2 separate regions of the Homo sapiens genome follow, and region 2 is linked to region 1. The links come from fine-mapping of genetic effects on gene expression. A gene starts in region 1. The other region holds a variant in brackets. All regions are shown on one strand. Distances are between the middles of the regions.

Region 1 (5,000 bases):
ATTAATGTTTCTCTCATTTTTTTTCATCACCAAATTAACAGTAGATTAAAAGAAAGTGAGAAAAGAGCAAACAAAATAAATGTATTCTATCATAAATTATGAAATATAGCTCTTATTAGGTACTTAAACACAAAATAGATCTTCTGTCCCATATTCTGCCACATCCTTTTCTATGTTACATAGTTACAGAAGTAAAATAACGAGACTTGAGTGGAAAGAAAGTGAAAGGAGGGAAGCAAAGGGAGTAAAAAGCAACTAGCTGAAAATCTCTCAATACAAAATGATGCTAAGTAAGGTCTGTTTGACAAATTTAATGCAACATTTCATATGCTGTTCTATTAAAAACAAACGACATTATTCCCCCTAAATTATCCCTTTGAAGCCAACCAAGTTAATATTTTTGGAATTGACATGTAAGATAGGATAACAAAATAAGTTAAGCATTTAACAACATCTCTAAACAAAGTATTTCCAAATTTTATACATCTTCTAGTAGAAGAGTTAGCTCTTTGTATTTGTTGGTGTATACTATTTTATAAAATAAAACCCTATTTAATTAGTCTATGTAAATTACTTGGAAGTCTGCAAATAGTAATTTTCATAGATGTTACTTAGTGCCAGCACCCTCCCCAAAATTAAATGTTACATAATTTGTTCATTTTGTGGGATTCCTAATTTGAAAAGAAACAACTAAAAAATAATACCAGAATAAAATAGCTACTCCTCTAGGGGATCACAGTAAATACAGCATTATTTTTTGCACTCTCTTAACTCTGTGAACTTCATTAAAAAGTTTAAATTTTCCCTAATATCTTTGAAACACGTGGTAAATGCGGTTTTAAGTATTGAGATTACTGGGTTCTGAAGAGCAACAATGAATGCCTAATTCCATTGAGTACAAGAATGAGCTTTTGCTTTATCATTGCAATAAATAAAAATGAAGTCTACTTTTATTAGTCTTGTGTTTCTCTCAACCCTAAGAAAATAAAAATATTTACAACTTGCAATGGTTACATTACAAAAAGTCATTTCATAAAAGTCTAAACTAAAATCCAAATGACTTCCTATGCGTTATTAAAAATAATCTTTACAGTCTATAATCATGCAAGCTTACATATGGAATACCAAAATGATAAATGTTTTTAGATACCATAAATATGTGCACTTACTACCATGGTGACTAAAACAGTCTAAGAATAAAGGAAATACAAGCTGTCTTTGCAAACGTATTTATTTATTCATATACTACACCTGTATCAGAAATTAAAGTGGTTTTGGTTTCAAAAAGTTTGAATTCTGGTTTCAAAATTATTAAATATAAATTTATATTAATAAATATAAAATTTAGTAATAAACAAATTCGGTGCTTGCTTGATATAAACGTGCTGAATAGCAATGCGTAACCAAGTGATTACCATTTAAATGACTTTGGAAACAAGACCTCTGCTCCCTATTTGGATTAGGCTGATAAATTTTATGACCTTACTGTGAGCGTATTAGTATCTGTACATAACTTTGGTTAAAGACATGTTTTACAATCATTACCTCTATATACAGTTAAACATTAATTTCATTTACAGTCAAAAGTATTTGGGGCCCTCTTAACAACATGTGAACTGTGTTTCCTTTGTCAGATGTAGAATTTTACAATTATTCGGCCAACCAATTACTAATCAAATGATTTCTTTACAAATGAAGTTTTGTACCACATTACTAAAGTAGCAGACTCTAACTAGTCCAGCTAACCCAGAAGCACTGTAACTAACCACACCGCACACAGCACTAGCTTATGTCTTCAACGCTCAGACCTGTATTCAATCAATTTCCTTCCACAGGAGCCTGCCAACTTCAACAACAGAATAAACGATATAATATCAACACGCAATGGTACGTACTCGCCACAAAGTCTGAATCACAGCACATATATTAGGCCAATATTTTCGACAGTCTGACTCAGAGCCCAGGAACCATGAAGATTGTGTCTGTCCTTGGTGCTGAAATGCACTGTTTTTCTGCGCCCTCACTGAAAAACTGTCATCCTAATCCCAATCCAAGAGGCTAAAAAGACTTGTTAATTTGGGGAGTCTGAGGATGGGAGGTTTAAAAAAGAAAATGATAAGTTTCTGGAAGAGAATGCCAACTAGTGTGTGTGTGTTGGGGGAAGGGGGTTGCTAGAAACATCCCGAGGGCATTTCCCCTTCAGTGCCCAGAGACCCAGGAAATCCGGACTGCGGCAAAGATCGGAAACGCCTCGTCGGGGCAGGAGCCGCGAGCGGGAACGTCGCCCTCGTCCGGGCCAGGCGGGCGAAGGCGGCGAAGGGCGCCACGGTTGTGGACGGCTACTTTCCGCGCCAAGGCGCGAGCCCCGGGGTCCTTTTGTTTCTGGGGTGAGGGGAGGGCGGTGGGCGGAGGGTAACCCACATCTGCATTTATTTGCACAGAGGGGACAACAAAAGACCCTGCCGCCCTGGCGAGCGGCGTCGGCGGAGCCAGAGTGGCCCCGGCGCCTCGGCGCGAACTCTGTCCCTTTCCTCGCGGTCCCGGCCGCTCTTACCGTCCCGGTCGCACAGCTGAATGGCCTCCAGGCTGAGGTTTTTGATCACCTCCTCACAGGGGCTGGTGGGGCTGTTGAGGGCATGATCCAGGCGCGGCACCTCCATTTTTCCAACCCACTCTGAAGCCCGCCTGCTTCGTATCCAGGCTCTCTCTGCCGGCCGGGTGGGCAAGAAGAGCGGGAAAGGGAGGGGGAGTGGCAGAGGGAGGGAAGGAGGCCTGGGACGCGGTGATGCGGCGCCGAGGCTGAGGCGCGGGGCTGGAGAGCCGCCGCGAAGGCGACGGCTGTGGCAGGAGCTCCGCGGAGTGTGCGGCTCTGAGAGACCGAGCAGGACCCGGCGCGAGGATGGGAGGCGCGCGCTCCCGGCGGGGAGGGGACGCTGCTCTCGGGGAACGTGATGTATAGGGCTTCGACGCGCGCACGCGCGCGGGAGAACGCGCCCACCTGCTGGCGCGCGGTGGTCCCTCCCCCGCCCTTCTGCGCGCACGCGCCCCCACCTGCCCTCCAGCCACTGCCAAGGCAACCTCGCGCGTGAGGCGTCGGGCGACCGAGCGCGCGGGAAGGGCGAGCGCTATACGCCGCGCGGCTGCCTCGCCCTCTCTCCTGGTGATAGCCATTTGGCGTCTTCTGTCTGCTCTCGGTGCCTGGCGAAGCCCGAGTTGGCCCTGAGGCGTCTGCACGGGGAGGCGAGGGCGAGCATGTTTGTTGTTTACCAAGAATTGGAAAAATAAGGGCCCGGACTCTTCGGACTCTCTGTACGGTATTGGGGTGTGGGAGCCACCTCCTCCCCTGAAGGTCCCAGGATACTCGCTGCCCGCACCCTGCGGGCTCGGCCGGACATTCCTCGGAAACAGCTGCGTCTGTGTGAGAAATGAGCGGATTACCTGAGGCGTGGAGGGGTTTAGAGACAGCATTTTGCCAGTCCACGACACTGAAGCGGGGCAAACGTGGGAACTCCTTACTGCCAGAAAGGTGAGGGAATGAGGAGATGCAGCAAGCCTGCTGAAAAGGCGGCAGACATGCTGCGGGGCCAGCAGCCACGGGACCAGCAGCCACGCAGTCTGCCTTCGCAGCGTAGCTTCATTCATTCATGCGCGTAGCAAATAAGTATTCAATGCTCACCCTATGCCATTGTTCTGGGCGTCAATGAAGGGAGTATAAACAGCACCTGCTCCCATGGATTTGGAAGGAATCTTTGCTACAATAGCTAATGAAGATTGACTTGTGCTTCCTCAAGCTACTCTATAACTTGTATGCCCATTGATTTTAATTGCATTTAAGATTCTGCAGTGCACTTAGTGGATGTGCAAACGTTTTAAACATAAAATAGAGGTCACAGCCTATTGACCTCTGTTCCCGTTTGCTTCTTTGGAAAAGTTTTTAGTTTTGTTGCTATCTTGGGATCAAAAATAGTGTCCCCTCTTTTCTTAATGTGCTTATAAATTAATATAAGTTCCCTTTTATTGATTTTCCATTTCAAACATAAATGTTAACCAACAAGTAACAGTTTACACATAGATGTCTGTATGCTGCTCTTTCTAGTCACATCCATTTAGCTATAACATGATGAAGTCTAATTAATTGAAGCTTCAATAAATGGAAGGACCAGCTTAAAGTAAAATAAGCCTGTGAAAAATCTTGGCACAATTGAAATTTCATAAATATCTGTGAAAGATAATTAGGCATCTTAAAGTGAAAAGTCTTCATTATGAACTTATTAATGAAGATGGATGTTTTTGAAGTTTGAAAGAATTCTTGTCTTAAGGTAGGGGTGTCCCCAAGGAGAGGGTAAATTATTACCTGTCAAAGGATATGACAAGAAAGTACTTACTGGTGAATTTTCTGTGTTCGAAAGCCTGGCTCTGTAGAACTAGAAATTGGTATTGTAAGCCCAACAGTGGGTTCATTTTTTAGAGTAGTCTCAAATTTATAAATCTCAAAAAAAAGGAACTGTGTAAACTAGAATAACAATTTACTGATTTTCAAGTAAGAAATACGACATGCATTTAATTCAAACTCATGCAAATATTTATGAAGCACCTATGTCCAGGACACTGTGCTATGTGTTGAAAATTTGGAGTTCAAATTTATCAAGAAAGATATATATTGAAAAAGTAAAAGTAGGATGGGTGTTAAGAAAGAGGAAGTATGGGAGCTTGTAGAAGCACGCACGAGGTTTATAACCTAGGTTAGATGGTCAGGAAGATCTCCAAAATGATTTTATCTTAAGGGAATGAGAAATTATTAAAAAGGCTTTAAATAGGAAATTAGCATGATCAGATTTGTCGGCTAGAATATTTGTGTAATCGGAAAGGGTAATGTTTCAAGAAGTGTATTAATGTCACTTTCTGGGTATACAACTTAATCAATCCAAGGCACCTTTCTGCTGAGGATTTGGATTCTTGTATAAAAAATACAAAAGAAATATTTACTTTTTAACTTTCGA
Region 2 (5,536 bases), 68 kb after region 1:
CTTTGGGAGACAGTTTGGAAGTTCTTAATAAAATTAAACATATATCTGTCATATGAACAAACCATTCCACTCCCTGTTATCTATCCCAGAGAAATGCAAGCATATGTCCATACAAAGACTTATGTACCAAGGTTCATAACAGCTGTATTTGTAGTAGCCCCAAAATGAAATCAACCCCAATGTCCATCAATGGGTAAATGAATAAACAAAGTATGTTACATTCACGGAATGAAATATTATTTAGCAGTGAAAGGAATTAACTCTTAATGCATGAAACAATATAGACAGTCTCAAAGTAATTGTGTGGTTTGAAACAACCAAGAAGAAAATCAAGAGTACATACTGTGTAATTTTATTTACATAAAATTCTAAGAAATGCAAACTAATGTATAGTGACAGAAAGCAGATCAATGGTTGCCTGGAAGCAGCCAGATGGGCAGGTGAGAAGGGTATTGTGGGCAGGAGAAGCAAAAAGGAAGGACAAGGCATAAAGATTTTTTTAGAGTGCTGCATATGTTTAATATCTTTATTGTGGCGATGGACTCATAGATCGTATTGGATGTGTGAACATACGTCATATGTCGAGGCTTATAAAGTTGTGTACTTTAAATATGTATAGTTTATTGTATGTCAATTAAAACTCAATGAAGCTTAAAAACTAAGTGGAATACAATAGTATGCATAGAAGATATCACCTCAGCGTGATCAGGATGCAAATATTTTACCATTTTCTCCTCTCCACTTTGCACCTTCAGCATTAGCATTTTTTTTTTTAATCAGCCAAACAACAAACTTTAATAATTGGTCTCAGAAATAGGCAGATGCCAAGTAGGGACCTTGATTGGACTCATATTAACTGAAAATATTATCCAAAAATAATGACTATAATGTTGGCTTTAAGAATCTGTGCAATTGTGATCCTTCAGTAATTTAGACAAACTTATGACAACCTCCCTCAAAATCTCCTAAGCCACCAATGAAAAATTTCACCTTCCTTGTGGCATGATTGTAAATGCAGACACAGACTCACTGGGCTTGAAAGGAAGGACTTAAAAAAATATCGGGCTTGATGCTTCCTTTCACAAAGAGATTGAACATCAGAAAAAATAAGTGACCAGCTTAAAGTAACACAACTAAACGGAGCAAGAACTCATGCCTTCTCACTTCTCTGAGAGTTCAGTATTTCAAAATTAAAAGGCTTCAATATAGAGGCCATTCAATAAATATTTGTTAAACTCAGAATAAATATCCTAGATTGAACTCCTAACCGTGGACTCTCTTATTTTAGGATGCACTGAGTTATTATCAAAGAAAAAGCAAACTCTGATGCAAAAATCCATACCTCATACCTCTCCACATAAACATGTTTCTGTTGTTGGTAAGGGACACTGTAGGAAGAGCATAAACTGACCTCATCTCTTTTATCCTGTCATTTCTGCTCTGTTGTATTACGGCATGACCCATTTATTTGGGTTTATGGAAAAAATGAGCCATTACAAATTCTCCATTCATATCTTCCCCTTTCTCATGTTTTCTTAATGTAGTTTTGTACTTGATTTTCGTTTATCTCTATTTATCTTTAATTAAATCTCTGGCAATAACCTTCCCAGGATTCTGGGAACATTAATTCAGTTTTCTCAAAGCCGTTCAAGGGATAAACTATGCCTAAGGGCTGCCAAGAAAGGTGCAGGCTTTGGGAGGATTAGAACACAACTATCAATCCCTCAGAATGAGTGCGAGGAAAAATCTACATGTTTCAGTTAAACTAGTATCAACCATTAAGAAACCACAGTAAACAGATGCAGAACAGTTGTGGTTTTGCCATAAATGCACACACATAGAACATTTCTTAGCTCTTGTTTTTCCTACTCTGCCACTGTTTTGTATCATGACCCCATAAACTTAGTCTAAAGAAAAAATGCTAGTTTTTTTGTGGCCCAACTTAAATATAAAATTTAATCATCTGATATATTTTTTATACAGAGTTTTCAGAAACCGAAACTTTTCAGAAACTTTTATACAGAGTTTTCAGAAACTGTGACCAAATCCCTAGGGATTGAGAAGTAATAGGTTATAAAATAAGGCTGAGCTTCAAGAAGGTTTAATCACAGGATAATGTAATGCATTCTGCAAAATAATTAGAGCATAATTTGCAATTATACTGTGGTCATGGCTCTCAAATTTTGGGGTACATAAGATACACAGGATATTCCCTGGCACTTCTTCCAGAAATTCTGATTTAGTATATCTGGGTGGAGCCCCACAATTTCCACTTTTTAACGGGTTTCACAAATGATTTTGCTGTAGGTGGGTTTTTGTTAATAAAAATTGCTGAAATTCTCTCCAATTTTGTCGCAGCAAAACACTAAAATTTAAATTTCACTACTTACTAGCTAAGAGTCCTTAGAAAAGTCAAATGACTTCTCTATATCTCATCTTTAAAATAAGAAAGATAATGTAAGGTTTTGTGGGAATTAATAGAATAATGTATGTAAAGTGCCTGGTACAGAATAGGCACTTAAGTAATGTTAGTTTCTTTTCCCAAAC[G/A]TATATCATGTTCCTTCTTAATCTGACCCTGAGCTGGAATGTGTTTCTCCCTTAATTATTAACCTGAGTATAAACAATTCCACATCTTTAATATTGTAAAAAGTTACATACTTCAACTCAAATGACCAATTGTGTTAGTTGCCAGTCCCAGAAATATTTTTGCTTTTTGAATGACTGAGGCATGACCAGAACATGGATGCCTGATATAATTAGCCATGATGTAAGAGCTAGCAAATGAATATTTAGGCAACACACACACATATACACACACACACACACACACACACATGAAATTCCTAACCCATACTTACCATGCTGCTTTGGGTTCTGTTGTGCAAACTGAGAGAAAAATTGCCATAAGAATAAATTAAAAAGCACAGAGCATTTCTGCTCATAGACAAGGGTTCAGGGTAAATACTAGTTCATTTTTTGGATATATGTTCTGATTTCTCAGCCTCTTGTTTTACTATTCATCCAAAGGTTTTAGATCCAGTGAGATGCTCTGACACATGTAGGATTTAAACACAAGCCCAATGCACACCCCGGCAGCCCAGAGGAACATTTTTCAAAATGAGAAATATGTTTGGGCCAATAGCCAACAATGGTAAGGAGAAGCTCAGCATCCCAAATGAGCACACAGAACTCAACTCTCTGAGTTTTATGAAAGTCTCTTTCCTTATTTATCAGGGCAGGATGAAAGGGATGAAAGCTAAAAGGGGTTGTAAACAAAATTTGACCAGGGCCTGTCCAGACAGAACCCTGTCCAAAGGCTCTTCCTTCATCCTGCCAAACACATCAAAGCCTTTCTAATTCATATATGCCTAAAAAGCCATCCCCCCATTCAGCACTGCTCCACAAAACACTGGGGAAAGCATGCCAAGCTTTTACTTACACTAAAAAGGCTAAAAATGTAAACATTTTTAAATGACTAATTTTTATTTTTATCAAAACCATACAGGTATGGTATTTGAAAAGTACTAAGTAGCTTACACTAAAAAAGAACAGTTGCCCCCATATCCCCAGCAACATTAAATCTACTCTTTCAAGCAACTACTTTCAAATATCTGTTTCTTCTAGTATCTATCTCCATGTTTCTATATAACTTTATATTTAATGTTATTTAACTATGTCAATATGATTCACCGCTGGGCTAAGTCATGGTCTATAATTTTACTTTCTTTCTTGAATGTGTATTTTTTTTTTTGTTTTTCCTAAAGTTATTACGTCTTTTTAAAGAACTGGTTTTCTCTGTATTTACACCTACGTCTTTCTACATTCTATAGCTGCCAGCATTTCAATAGAATTGTCCACAAATATAACCTGTCAGATAATTTCTCATTTCCATTCTTTTTTCTTGAGACTTTCCTCCTAGAGTCAATTTAGGCCTCCTATTTTAAATTTTAAATGGATTCCTAAAAGTCACATTGATCCACTATCTAGGACCCATGGTTTTTTCTTTTTTTAATGGCCTGATTTCAAGATCAATTCCAAAGGATCCCTGAAAAAAACAATTATTCCATTTATGGTTTAGAGGTAGCCTAAAATAGAATATTGAACCAATTTACATATTACTCTTAATGGTGGCAACTGATATGTTCTCACAAATGGCAAAATCAAAACAACCTAATAGAACAACCTAAAAATGGTGATGAGCTCTCCTAATAAGAAAGCCAAAGGCCGAGATGTGAAAATGGAGAAGGCTTAAAAATTTGTGTTTTCCCCTCAAGTTCCATTGAGTTATCTGACAGTTGATTGTCATCTGATTTTGTCAATTCACTATAATTGAACAACATGTACAAGCAACAAGGAAAAATCAATTCGGTGACCATGAGAAAAAGAGAAATGAGTTGTAGACTCACTGGGAAAGTTTATAAAGCCTTCTCTGTAGGGTTTAGTTATTGCTTTTTGTTCTGAAACAGCAGCACTGAAGCACAAAAATGCAAGTAATTGGGGTCAATGTTCAGTCAGATCCCTCAAAAAAGGATCTCAAGCCAACCAGCATATGGTATGCAGTGTCCTCTGTTAGAATAAAACTTTGACTTCAAATAAACATGTGATGCCTCTAACTTTTCCACTGGGGAAAGTTAATGAGTTTTTTTTGACAAGTGTAGCAAAGATGTGATTTTCAGAAGTGAAAGTCTAAATACCTAAAACTCCTTGGGTAAAAAAAAAAAAATTATACTCTTGAAAGGAGACAAAATGCACATTAATTCAAATGCCTTTTTGTTTTTTTGTGTAAATCTCTTAGGGCCAATAGGGAAGAAACTGTGTCAAAATGGGCAGAAATGAGATTCCAGGATCTCACCAAGAGGAACACATAAATATTCAAGAATTGATTTCAATGTTTTGTGCAAAGGAGGTTGTAGGCTGCTGGACTGGGGATTAGGCTATTAGAACTTTGTCCAGATACTTATGGAGAAGTTCATCCTTTCTCACTGACCTAGGAAGAGACAAAAAATGGCAAAAGGGAGCACTGACTTTTCTGAGAAATGTTGACAACTGGCCTGAATGTCTGTTCCTCAGAGGTTGCCTGCTTGTTTTCTCAAGTCCAGTGTGCACTTGCAGACATAGCATGTTTAAAGGTATCACTTAACTTTCTAAGTGTCAGTTTCTTAAATGGAAAATAATAGCAGTACCTGTAAGAGCTGTTCTGAGAATTGAAACTTTACGTAAACAACAAATTGCATTCAGAAAGCTTTTGTAGAGTCTTGAAAATTCAGGCCACAAGCATATGAGTGTCTCCTATACTCCTGAAAGCAGCCCTCTATACTCCTGAAAACATGTCCCCAAGTTGATGTGAAAAAGTAAAAGCAGCCTTTATTGACTTCTGATCCTTCTAAATCTTCAGTTACCTCCCTCTTCTGCCATGGAACCCTTGGGCATTCCAGCCTTCATTGACTTCTCCCCCTTTAAATTTCTGCAGCTTTTAGTTTTACTCACTCAGGTACCCACACCTTACAGACTTTCGGCTATTTATATTTTTCTGGGT

Alleles and levels. Positions count from the first base shown, and alleles are read on the strand shown. Sizes are in standard deviations (SD) of each study's normalised expression.
For the expression in pancreas of the gene that starts at base 2,871 in region 1, A is the low allele of the variant in region 2 and G is the other (moderate effect, 0.73 SD a copy in GTEx).

The links. PIP is the estimated chance that this variant, and not a neighbour inherited with it, causes the effect.
Region 2: its variant is the best candidate, but not a certain one, in a credible set for the expression of PHYHIPL in pancreas (GTEx, PIP 0.68).

What each region holds. Positions count from the first base shown.
Region 1 is chr10:59,174,514-59,179,513 of GRCh38, reverse strand. PHYHIPL (phytanoyl-CoA 2-hydroxylase interacting protein like) reads right to left here and starts at 2,871. Exons shown (of 5, transcript NM_032439.4): 1 at 2,555-2,871. The coding sequence starts at 2,660. CCEPR (cervical carcinoma expressed PCNA regulatory lncRNA) reads left to right here and starts at 3,050. Exons shown (of 1, transcript NR_131782.1): 1 at 3,050-5,000.
Region 2 is chr10:59,106,269-59,111,804 of GRCh38, reverse strand. No RefSeq gene overlaps it. Among named protein-coding and RNA genes, the nearest start is that of CCEPR, 67 kb to the left of the region's middle. The variant G/A (reference allele first, on the strand shown) is at 2,548.